3 linked regions of the Homo sapiens genome follow. The protein of the gene in region 1 purifies or fractionates together with the protein of each later gene. This does not show direct contact. Each region holds a gene or a part of one and is shown on either strand. Other genes may lie near its edges.

Evidence for each region.
Region 2: the proteins of WDR20 (region 1) and COL11A2 purify together in Homo sapiens (affinity purification with mass spectrometry; one large-scale study listed by BioGRID and IntAct). This does not show direct contact.
Region 3: the proteins of WDR20 (region 1) and THUMPD3 purify together in Homo sapiens (co-immunoprecipitation; one large-scale study listed by IntAct). This does not show direct contact.

Annotation. Positions count from the first base shown.
Region 1 is NC_000014.9:102,195,071-102,199,222, forward strand, and holds part of WDR20 (WD repeat-containing protein 20), read left to right. Parts: coding exon 1-50; intron 51-56; exon of another isoform or gene 57-803; coding exon of another isoform or gene 804-834; intron 835-2,684; coding exon of another isoform or gene 2,685-2,777; intron 2,778-4,152. UniProt on the Homo sapiens protein: Regulator of deubiquitinating complexes. Activates deubiquitinating activity of complexes containing USP12. Anchors at the base of the ubiquitin-contacting loop of USP12 and remotely modulates the catalytic center of the enzyme.
Region 2 is NC_000006.12:33,175,142-33,178,967, reverse strand, and holds part of COL11A2 (collagen alpha-2(XI) chain isoform 1 preproprotein), read left to right. Parts: coding exon 1-48; intron 49-235; coding exon 236-289; intron 290-479; coding exon 480-533; intron 534-615; coding exon 616-660; intron 661-782; coding exon 783-836; intron 837-1,261; coding exon 1,262-1,306; intron 1,307-1,375; exon of another isoform or gene 1,376-1,502; coding exon 1,503-1,556; intron 1,557-1,742; coding exon 1,743-1,787; intron 1,788-1,922; coding exon 1,923-1,976; intron 1,977-2,202; coding exon 2,203-2,247; intron 2,248-2,481; coding exon 2,482-2,535; intron 2,536-2,664; coding exon 2,665-2,709; intron 2,710-2,898; coding exon 2,899-2,952; intron 2,953-3,286; coding exon 3,287-3,394; intron 3,395-3,826.
Region 3 is NC_000003.12:9,380,054-9,383,879, reverse strand, and holds part of THUMPD3 (tRNA (guanine(6)-N(2))-methyltransferase THUMP3), read right to left. Parts: intron 3,378-3,826; coding exon 3,262-3,377; intron 682-3,261; coding exon 571-681; intron 1-570. UniProt on the Homo sapiens protein: Catalytic subunit of the THUMPD3-TRM112 methyltransferase complex, that specifically mediates the S-adenosyl-L-methionine-dependent N(2)-methylation of guanosine nucleotide at position 6 (m2G6) in tRNAs.

The DNA of each region.
Region 1 (4,152 bases):
AGCTTATAGACCCAATCAAAAAAGAAACTAGCAAACTTTTTAATGAGGAAGTAAGTAGCACCCTGTCTTAGCTGTTAAGAATCCCTTTAAGAGTTGATACATTCTTACCGAGGGTAGTCGGCCTTATTTTGCACTTCAAGCTAAGCCCATTTTTTATTCGCCCAGCCCTCCTACCTAGTATGCCCAAGTTTAAATGTGGTGGATTAATTTGTTGACCTTACCTGTTCTTCCTTGGGGTGACTGTTTTGTGCATTTTTATGGAGCATGCTCAGGTGTCTATAACAGGTGTTTTAAAACTCTTCTATAATGGAGATAGGGACAGTACTGTAACTCGGTATTTATAATTTAAGTAAGAAAATGTGGAATTCCAAAGTTGGTTCACATCACCAGAACATTTCATGCAGATCAAAGAACTTGATGACATTTCCTTAGGCTGCTTAAATTGTAGCCAAAGCTTTTGTATGTATGTTTGACAGTCATTTGGCTAAGGAGTACTTCACTTGCTCTTGAAAATAGTTACTGTAAACTCATCTTTGACATAGTTGGAAATCCTGGCGCTTAAAGTTTGGTCACATGACATAGCTTTTGCCAGTGTTGTAGTATGTACTGGGGTTTCTAGTATCTTCAATTTCATTCTGGAAAGAGCCTGAGATATCTGAGCTGTCTGTTCAGGAACATGTCAGGACTGTTAAATGTGGCATATAGAAATTGCCAAGTAGATTATATTTTTTAAAGCTGTTGGAGCATCTTTCAGCCTCAAGTATTGCTATTTCATATTTAATATTCTTCCTCGTCTGTTTCAGTATGACTTTTCTACCAAGTGGAAAAGATAAGGTAGGCTTGCTGAGTTAGAAGCCCTGGGTTCCAATCTCTACTTGGGACCTTGCCCCTGAGGCGCAAGGGTCAGGCTATGTGGGACCCCCTCCCTTTTGCATTGTTGCATGGTTTTAACATCATTAACTTGGAACAAAAACACATTATAGAGTATGGTTTTTAAGAAATAATTTTGTTTGGGGAAGAAAATTCAAATTGACAAATGGCAGTTAAAATTTGGATTCTTTTGCAGTTATGGTACTTGCTATTCATGCAAATCAGTATCCACCCAGGGTGCTCCTGTTTGACATTGCCAGTGGATTTGATAAGATCTTATGAACCATGCCATCTCTTCTAGTTTCCTCTGAGTTGACTGGAAACAAAACTTGCCATCTGGACTGACAGATTGTAGAGGAAAAGTATTTAATCCCATTTTCCATTAAAAAAAAGTTAAGCAGAAAATATTTTATTTACCTAGATGTTTTTTTAGTATCATCTGCAGAAGTGATTTCTAAGTAGCTGGATGATTATTTTTTTGGTGCTGAGTTTGGGGAGCAGCGCACAAAATTGGCCTCCTCTGCACTGTTAGCAGAAATTGTGAATTTGGAATCATTGTGGGTTTTTATTGTTTAGGTAGGGGAGAGTGTGATTGGAGGGGGCAGGGATTGGAGCCATGTAAGGGCTGTTAGTAAACAAGACCCGGAGGCAGCCCTGGCCGAGGATGGTACAGAATGCCGCTTAGAGAACAAGAAAGTTTTGTGTGTCGTGGCAGGGGGAGGGCAGGGAGTTGGAGACCACACGTCCCCAGAATCTCAGGGCTCTGGGAGCACTCAGGCTGCATTGGCCAGAACTATCCCTGCCCTGGTGACTGGGAGTTGCAGGCTGGAAGGCAGCTCCTCATTCTTCATGATTTAAGCATGAGTTATCTCATACTCACTTTACATTTTATTTGAGAAATTGCTATTTAGAATGCTAAGACTGTGTGTGGTTTAATGCCAGCTTTGCATTTACAGCTTGAGGCTGAAATCGATTGCCCTTCATAGTAAGGAGATCCTCTGGCCATGTGGATACATTTTTATCAGATTTTGGTCAGAATGTCTAAGAGCAAGGGTCACCGGAGGTTTGTTCCTTAGAGAGTGCCAGGAATGGTGGTGAAGTAGTCATCGTGTCGTGCTTTGCTGTGGTGTGACATTTACAGGTTTCAAGGCACTTTTACCTATGGCCTCTACAGGGAGGGTGGGGAGTTGTTCCCATTTTACAGATGAGGAAATAGTCAAAGAGCACATAAGTGAATTGTCCAGATCAGGTAGCAAGTTGATGATAGAGTTGGAACCAGAAATTAATTCCAGAAACTCATTGGTTACAGGACCCACCATGCATGGTTGCCAGATGAGCTCTTGCCCTTCCGGGAGCTCACAGTTTAGTAAGAATGGACAGAGAGTACTGGGCACGTGTCAGCACAGCGATATGAACAAAATACCAAGGGCTAGCTGCCGCAGGAATTCTTTAGTATGCATTTTAAAGTTTTTTAAAATGTTAAGTTCACTGGGGGAGTTCCAAGAAATGCTTTTAGAAAGTGATGTTTGATGTGGGTCTTAAAGGGTACATAGTCATTAGAGGAGGGTAAGGAAGGCCTTCAAAGCTGGAGGAACAACTAGGCATGTGAAAGAACATCCAGTAACAGCTTGGCCACATCACAGTGTGGGACTTGGAGTGTCAGAGTTCGAAGCTGGAAAGATAAATTGGAACCAGCTTGTCTTATAAAAGCCTTTTCATGTCACGTGAAGCAATTTGGAACTGACACTGGAAGATGTGGGGGAACCTTTGGCCTTTTAATGAAGGGAGTGACAGGATCAAATGTGTTTTTTTAGAACTCTTGTCAGCACTTGTGGAAGGTGGATTGGAATGAAGAAAGACAGAATGAAGGTAGCAAGACCAGTGAGGAGGCTCTAGTAACTGTCCAGGTGAGAGCTGAGGGCTTGAACTAGAGTTGCGGCCATTGTTTCATTCATTCAGGACCTTGACTACCTACCACATGCCCAGCACTGGGTCTGCAGCAGTGGGCAAAACCTGCCCTCCTGTGACCCCTCTCAGGAGGGAAGAGAGGTATAATAGCACCACCCCCGAAACACTGGTGACCACAGATGGTGACACTTTGTGATGTAAGAGGCAAGAGAGCAGGCCCAAGAAAGGGAGAGAATCACAGAGGTCTACTTTATTTATTTATTTATTTATTTATTTATTTATTTATTTATTTATTTATGAGACAGAGTCTTACTCTGTCACCCAGGCTGGAGTGCAGTGGCGCAATCTTGGCTCACTGCAACCTTCACCTCCCAGGTTCAAGCTATTCTTGTGCCTCACCCACCCAAGTACCTGGGATTATAGGCCACCTGACTAATTTTTGTATTTTTAGTAGAGACGGGATTTCACCATGTTGGCCAGGCTAGTCTGGAACTCCTGGCTTCAAGTGATCCACCCACCTCAGCTTCCCAAAGTGCTGGAATTACAGGCGTGAGCCACCACGCCTGGCCAACACAGAGGTCTACTTTAAACTGGGAGGCAGAGGACATCTCTCGGACGAAGTGCTATGTTTTAAGCTGTGCCTCATGTGAGAAGAAGGCCAACCAGGTAAGGAACTGGAGATGGAGCTTTCCTGCAAAAGGAATAGCACATGAGGGCCCTTGAGCCCAAGGAAACTGAAAGAAGGACGGTTTACCTGGGGAAGGTGGCATGAAGTAAGGGCATGAGATTGGAGGGCCACATCACCTACGGCCTGATCCAGATTTGTTTCTTAGCCTGAAGTACGGGATTCCTTAGAAGGGAGCAGGTGCACAAGGCAGGCAGATTGGTGTTTTTGAAAGGTACCCTGGCTGCTTTTTGGAGACTGAATTGGAAAGGTGTATTAATAAATCAGGTTTCTGGGTGTCTCTTGCTGTGTTGGGTGAGACTGGGAAAGGAGCAGTTGTCAGGGAATGGAGGGGAAGATCAGAGGTTCTGGTCTGTACTTGCTAAGTTCGAGAGACCTGTAGATAGTGGGATGTATGGATCTGGAGCACAAAACTAGGGGTTACAATTTGGCAGTTGTCAGCATAGAAATAATAATCACATCCTTGAGATTAGATGAAAGGTTCTTTGGAGAGATGATGGTGAGAACAAAGAAGGCCTGGGTCTGAGGCCTGATTATACTCCAAGATTCTGGCCATCTCAGCTACTGCTTTCAAAGGGGCACTTAACACACAGTTAATTACCACGACATTTACAACTTCACAGCCCAGAATGCTGAGGGCTCGGACACCAGCTCTGCCACTTTCTGCTTGCAGGATGATGTGGGTCTTA
Region 2 (3,826 bases), on another chromosome or scaffold:
GCAGGTGCTGATGGAGCCCGAGGGATGCCTGGAGATCCTGGAGTGAAGGTAACAGGCTTGGGCCCCTCCCTGAAGCCTGTAGCCTTCAGCCCACGCTGGGCTCAGTTGTTTCTTGGGGATGACCTAGTTCTCCAGGCTTCCCCAGGATCAGCACCCCCCCAGCTCAGGGTGCAGTAGGGAGGGGTGGGCTTGGACAGGGTCGTGTCCTCACTCTGGCTATCCTTCCTCCTCCTAGGGTGACCGAGGTTTTGATGGACTCCCAGGGCTCCCTGGAGAGAAGGGCCATAGGGTGAGTACATTAGTGGGTGTGTGTTGTAATTGGGGATAGATCTTCTATGGGAGTGAGGATAGGTAGGGAAGGGAGGCTGGAGGCTTGGCAGGAGCTCAGTGAAAGTAATGGATGGGCTAAGTGCAGAGGTTCGGTGTCTGCCTGTGTTGGGGGCTCTGAAGCCCCTCTTATGAGTTCCCCCATTTTGCAGGGTGATACTGGTGCCCAGGGCCTTCCTGGTCCCCCTGGTGAGGATGGAGAGAGGGTAAGTGTAGTGGCAAATGTAGGGGCTGGGTGCAGGGGAGGTCTAGAAGGCACAGCAGCTTTACCGTGTCCTCCTCCTCCAGGGAGATGACGGGGAGATTGGGCCTCGAGGGCTGCCTGGAGAGTCGGTGAGTGTCCAAGGGCTGGTGCTGGGGGAGGGGGCTCTGGGGAAGCCAGGAGGGGGACATGAGCACTAAAGGGACACAGTTTTATCCATTCATGCCGTCTCCTCCCCTCACCGTGAATGCAGGGACCTCGAGGTCTCCTTGGCCCCAAAGGCCCACCTGGTATTCCTGGACCCCCTGTAAGTGACTCCCTGACTTCTGACCCTGAGGTGACCCCTTGACCTCTCCAACTCTCCACCTTTCTAGCTGCCTTCCTGCTCCCTCTCCTCTCTCGGCATGCTTCCCATTCCCTGTGAGCTCCCCCTGCTCTGGCCCCACACTGCCCTGCCTCAGCATTCGCTCCCCGTGCACAGGGAGGGCCATGTGGCGTGGTGCCCTGAGGGCTCTGGGCATAGGAAATAAATCTTCAAGAAAAACAAAACCAAAGCCCACAAGCCCACAGATCCACAGTCCCACACACTGCAGGCCTGGGCCAGCTGTGTTTGCTTGGGTTTGGGATGGATTGGAGGTCTGACCGTCACACCCTCGGGAATGGCCGGGCCTCTGAAAACCACAGGTCCCTCCGGGCCACCTTCAGGCTGCTCACACCCATCTTGTGTTTCAGGGCGTCCGAGGCATGGATGGTCCCCAGGGCCCCAAAGGGAGCTTGGTGAGTGATGGATAGGAGATCCCACCCCCATTCTTATCCCCCGAGGTCCCTGCCAGCATCCTGTTGGCCGCCATTTTGACCCCTGCCTGCTTCCTGCTCTTGCCTTCTTGGCTATCGCTGCTGGGACTCAGCTCCATGCTCTAAATGTGTTCTATCTCCATCTCCTTCTGACCTGTGCCTGGTCACCTGTTTCTAGGGACCCCAGGGAGAGCCAGGACCTCCTGGACAACAGGGCACCCCTGGGACCCAGGTGAGCGGTGCCCCTACTCCGTTCCCCAATTTTCATGACTTCCCTTGGGCTTCCACAATGGGTGAGACCCTGGAAGGATACAGGAAATTAAGGGTTTCAGGCCCTTGTTGCTCATGCTTTGAATCCGGGAGGCTGGATAGAAGAGACCCTGGGAGGCCCCTGTGACTTCTCTTTCCCTGTATGTAGGGTCTTCCCGGGCCCCAGGGTGCCATCGGCCCTCATGGAGAGAAGGTAAGTGACTAAGTGATTTGGAGGACAGGGGGTTTAGAGTGGGGATGTAGGGAGAACCCTAAATGTCTGCTGGGATTTTGTCTGTGTCCAGACATGACCCCTCTAGTGACCCTGAGCCTCTTTGTCTTCCTGCAGGGTCCTCAAGGGAAGCCAGGGCTCCCCGGCATGCCTGGCTCAGACGGACCCCCGGTGAGTGGGACCCCACTTCCGAATCCAGTTCCCCTTGGCCTTCCACCCCAGTGCATGACCTCAGAGCTCCTTTAGTGACCCTTGCACTGAAAGGTCACTGGTGGTGCTTGTCCATGGACAGTTGGCTTCACTAGGTCACAGGAAATTTGGGTTGGAAGAAGTGTAGGGAGGGGTGCAGAGAGGGTGACAGGGGCCACTGGTCACATTTTCTATCCCTTACTCCCAGGGTCACCCAGGGAAGGAAGGTCCCCCTGGAACCAAAGGAAACCAGGTGAGATCTTCCATGTCTTTATCCCCTGAGGGAGTCTCCACTCAGACTCTAGAGCCTCAAAGTCCTTGGGATTCCCTTGTCTCATTATTCATATGGCTCTGCCACATTCTCAATTCCTGTGCCCCGTAACCCTACCCAGACAGCAATGTTGTTACTTCCATTTCTTCCACCCCTGGAGGCCCCCACAGTGACACTCTGAGGCCCCTTTATAAATGCCTCTCTTTTATCTTCCAGGGTCCCTCTGGACCTCAGGGACCTCTAGGATACCCAGGACCTCGAGGGGTCAAGGTAACTGACCACCAGGCTGGGAGACAAAGGGCTGTGGTCAGGGGAGCTATATGGGGTCTTAGGAGCTTGGTCCTTCCAACCCACCTCCATCCCCTGATCAGTCTACTTCTATCCCCTCTCTAATTCTAGGGTGTGGACGGAATTCGGGGTCTGAAGGGTCATAAGGGTGAGAAGGTGAGCACCATGCCCCCAGCTTCCCAGCACCTCAGTCCTGCCATCTCCTCTCTTCACTGCCTTCCCTCCAGCCTGCCCCGCACTGCCGTCCAGCTCCCGAGCCCCTGCTTCCACCTATGTTCTCAGAATTCCCATTAGAACCCCAGCCCTCTGTCATCTGTGGTGCCCTCTCACCTCTATCTTTCTCAGGGTGAGGATGGCTTTCCTGGGTTCAAAGGTGACATAGGCGTGAAAGGTGACAGGGTGAGTAGAGACCCCACACTGGCCCCAATTCCGTGTTCTACTGAGCCTCCACTCTGGAGACGCCAAGCACCGGTTTATTCTCCTGAGTCTCCAGACTCCACAGTTCCAGTGCTGTGTTCCCTTGGGAGCCTGACCCCTACAGGATGATAGCCCCATGGTCTGTGTCATGCCTGCCCTCCCATCACTACACTATCCCTACCCTGTGGGCTTCCTGTCCTGCAGTGGCTCCTGGGACCCCTCTAGCCCTCCTCAGCCTCACTGTTGCCCATTTCTCCTCTGGGCCCAGAGCCCACCTCCAGTCCCCAGCACTCACCTGTCCTTCCCTCTCACACAGGGCGAAGTTGGAGTCCCTGGTTCCAGGGGAGAGGATGGTCCTGAGGGGCCAAAGGGACGCACTGGACCGACTGGAGACCCTGGGCCCCCAGGGCTCATGGGCGAGAAGGTGATGGGATGAGGGTTCTGTGCCTGGGTCCTCTGGGGGTGTGGGCACTGGGGTCAGGATGGGCATGGGTGCCCGCCGCTGAAGTCAGCCAGTCAGTTGAAGATGGCCATGCATTAGTCATACTTCTGTCTGTGTAAATGGCATCTCTCAGCTGCTGATGGGCAGAGGGGATATATAAGAAGTCAGGGAAAAGTCCCTGACACGAAGAGTTGGACGGAGACGAAGCTTAGAGAGTAGCTGTTGCTTCAAGGCAGAGTGAACATGCGTTCGGACTCCAAGCAGCAGGAGTTCTGAGATGAGAGAGTCTAATAGCAGTGAGGTCTGTGGTCTCCAGAGCTGACTCTCCCCAGCACTTGCCCTGTGCCAGGTGCTGTGCTGATGCGTCCTATCTATCCTATGAGGTAGGCATGTGACGTACTGTTTTGCTGAGGT
Region 3 (3,826 bases), on another chromosome or scaffold:
GAGGCTGAGGCGGGCAGATCACCTGAAGTCAGGAGTTTGAGACCAGCCTGGCCAATATGGTGAAACCCTGTCTTTTAAAAATACAAAAATAAGCTGGGCATGATGGCATGTGCCTGAAATCCGAGCTACTCAGGAGGGTGAGGCAGGAGAATCGCTTGAACCCGGGAGGCAGAGGTTACAGTGAGCCGAGATCATACCACTGCACTCCAGCCTGGGCAACAGAGCAGGGCTCTGTCTCCAAAAAAAAAAAAAGAATCATTTATGCTGAGAAACAGAATGAGAACCAAGTCTTCTACCACCTTTTTGTGTAGGATATATAATTCAAGAATGGGCTAGAAAGTGAATTACAGGTAATTTAAAAATGAACCTCCCATGATGGTCAGGATTCCAAATGTAGTTAATACATTCCTGAGTTCTCGGAAGAAACATAATGGGTGAATCCATCATGTTGTTAAGTGAAAAACAGCTCTGCTAAGTCTGCTAAAATTCAAGATTTTTTTCCTGACTTAGAATAAACGCAAGGAAAATAATGACATATTTAGAAGACAAGCAGGTACTAGTATTTCTCACCTTTTTCCAAATGGCAAATCTGTTACAATAATATCCACAGAGCCAGTTCTCAATGGCAGATTGCAGATATCCCACTGAACAGCATCTATGGGCAAGCCCCAGGAGGGTTTGCTGTGGGGACAAAGGAAAGGTGCTTCAACATACTGTGAAGCATAAAGTTATTACAACAATTTTTGTTTCTGAAGAGAGACTGCTACAGCAAAACATAAACTGCTAAGGATATCAGTGATAATATCAACCTATTCAAAATTTAAGAAATGGCACAAAGGTAAAAAATAGGTCAGGCTGGGCATGGTAGCTTGTGCCTATAATCAGCACTTTCAGGGGCTGAGGTGGGAGGATCACTGGACTCCAGGAATTTGAGACCAGCTGAGCAACACTGTGAGACCTTGTCTCTAAAATACTTTTTTAAGAAGTTAGCAGGGCATGATGGCACACACCTATAGTCCCAGCTACTCAGGAGGCTGAGGTGGGAGGATCACTTGAGTCCAGGAGTTGAAAGATGCAGTGAGCTAGGATTGTGCCGCTTTACTCCAGCCTGGGTGACAGAGCAAGACCCCCGTCTCAGAAAAAAGGGAAACAAACTGAAAACATGATTGTAATGCAGAGAACTGCAAAAGACAACTTTAAAAACAATGCTGAAGCAGTAAATTACATAACCGATGATACAAAAATTTAAGTTGCTGATAAAACATACACTGGAGAAAAACAATACTAAAGAATAGATAATGGGGTGATGTATCTGAAGAATAAAGTTTGTAAAACTAGTAATAACAGGAGGCCTAAAAGAAAAACAGATAGTAAAATTGGCAAATATATAGGTAATTGTTTCAAGATGAAAAACCAAAAGGAAAATATGTGCCATGCTATATAAAACAAGACTAAGAAAAAAGTTAAGATAAAAAATATAGATGACAGAAGACAGAATGAATAATAATAAATACAAAGGATTTAAATCCTCCTCATTAAGGCAAAGCAACTGGTTTAAGAAACAAAATAATGCACAGGCTAAGAACTGAAGATAAGTCAAAGGTTATCAGCAGAAATTAAGGATTTAATTGACATTTAATGAAGAATTTAAGAAAAAAATGCAATAAAAGCAATCATTACATAATTTTTAAAAGTACACATAAAATATGTATTATAACCGCATACCAATAACTGCACAAAACAAAAGGCAAAAAATATTAAAAACCAAAGTAAAATGGATAGAAATGTACAGGTTGAGGCCGGGCACAGTGGCTCATGCCTGTAATCCCAGCACTTTGGGAGGCCAAGGTGGGCAGATCATGAGGTCAGGAGATTGAGACCATCCTGGCTAACATGGTGAAAACCCGTCTCTACTAAAAATACAAAAAAAAAATAAGCCGGGCATGGTGGCGGGTGCCTGTAGTCCCAGCTACTTGGGAGGCTGAGGCAGGAGAATGGCGTGAACCCGGGAGGCGGAGCTTGCAGTGAGCCGAGATCAAGCCACTGCACTCCAGCCTGGGCGACAGAGTGAGACTCCGTCTCAAAAAAAAAAAAAAAAAAAAAAAAAAAAAAAAAAAAAAAAAGTACGGGTTGAACAGACAGTGTAGGTACAAACAAGATAAAATATTCAGAAGCTAGAAAGGTACGTTTGTTTAAATGTTTATCAGTTTTAATTAAAAAAAAAAAAGACTGGCCATATACTAGGCTCATTAAAAAAAACCCTCAATAAATATGAAACAACCATTCAAAATTAATTCATCACAATAAATCAGTATTTAAGAAAATTGAAGCCTTCCAACTACTTGTCTTAATACACGTAAAAGGATTTAATGTTGATACATAGACCAGCAGCATCAGCATTGTCCTGGAGTTTCCTGGAAAATGCAGACTCTTAGGTCCCATCCCAAACTACTAAATCAGATCTGTGTTAACAGTACTCCTAGGTGATTCACATGTACATTAATGTTTGAGAAGCACTGTCCTAAAAAATTAGATCAGAGAGACAATGAAATATATAACCAATGACTTAGTAATAAAATAGAGGCGAGGCTATATAAACTGCAGTATTTCTATACGATGGAATTTATGTAGTGACTTTAAAGACTATGGTCCAGGTGTGGTGACTCGTCTCTAATCCCAGCAATTTGGAAGGCTGAAGCGGCAGAATCTCTTGAGGCCAGGAGTTTGACACCAGCCTGGACAAAACAGCAAGACCCCCATCTCTACGAAGATTTTAAAAAATTAGCTGGGCATGGTGGCACATGCCTGTATTCCTAGCTACTAGGGAGGCCAAGGCAGGAGGATTGCTTGAGCTCAGTAGGTTGAGGCTACAGTGAGCCATGATCATGTCACTGCACTCCAGCCTGGGTGACAAAATGAGACCCTGTACCCAAAGCAAAAAAGAAGCCTATGTAAAAATATACTGTTTAAAATTTTGTGAAATTAAAATGAGTCTATAAAATATTCTTCCAATATGTAGGGGAAAAGACATATGAATAAGACAAATGAAAAATTGCATATGGTGGGGAAATTATCGCTAAAATAATATTTTAAAAATATAACTTATTTTCAATAAACTTTAAAAATGTAAATGGAGTCTCATAGTATATTCATTTTGGTTACAATGACGTCACAATGCACTGGGAGTTTTAATTCATAAAGTCAATATAAAAAGTGATTCTCTAACTCTAAAAGATGCTAAGAAATCTTTTAAATTTTTACCCTTCTTTAATTTGGCTCTTGGTCAATAAAGATGCAATGTTATTTGCTGCTCTATTCACAGCCAGTGGATTATTATCACCAGCAATATGGAAACAGTCAGACCATTCAGTGGCCCCCTAAAAGATAAGAGTGTATGTTAAAACAAAAGTAGCAAACTGTAAAATATGATTAAATTGTCAACAAACAAAGAAAATCCAGTGCTTTTCTAGAGTGGCAAAACATTGCATGTTGTCAACTGTGCTATTTCCCTGGCTGAAAATGCCCTCTTATTCTTTCTCTGCTTGCTGAACCTCTACCCATCTCTTAAGACCCAGCTCAAACCTCATGCCCTTTCAACATCAACCTTAACTCTCCAAGCAGTCTTATGTGCCCCTCCCAAAAACACTTTGTATGTACGTACCTCTGCCACTGCACTTGTCCCACGGTTAATTATTTCTTCCCCTTTATGCCTCTCAACTAACCTGGGAGCTCTCTGAGGTCAGGTCTAGTATTTTATTCAGTTCCTCATCCAGCAGTGTCTGGCACACTAAATTCTAAGTTAATGCGGTTTGAAAATATTTGAGAT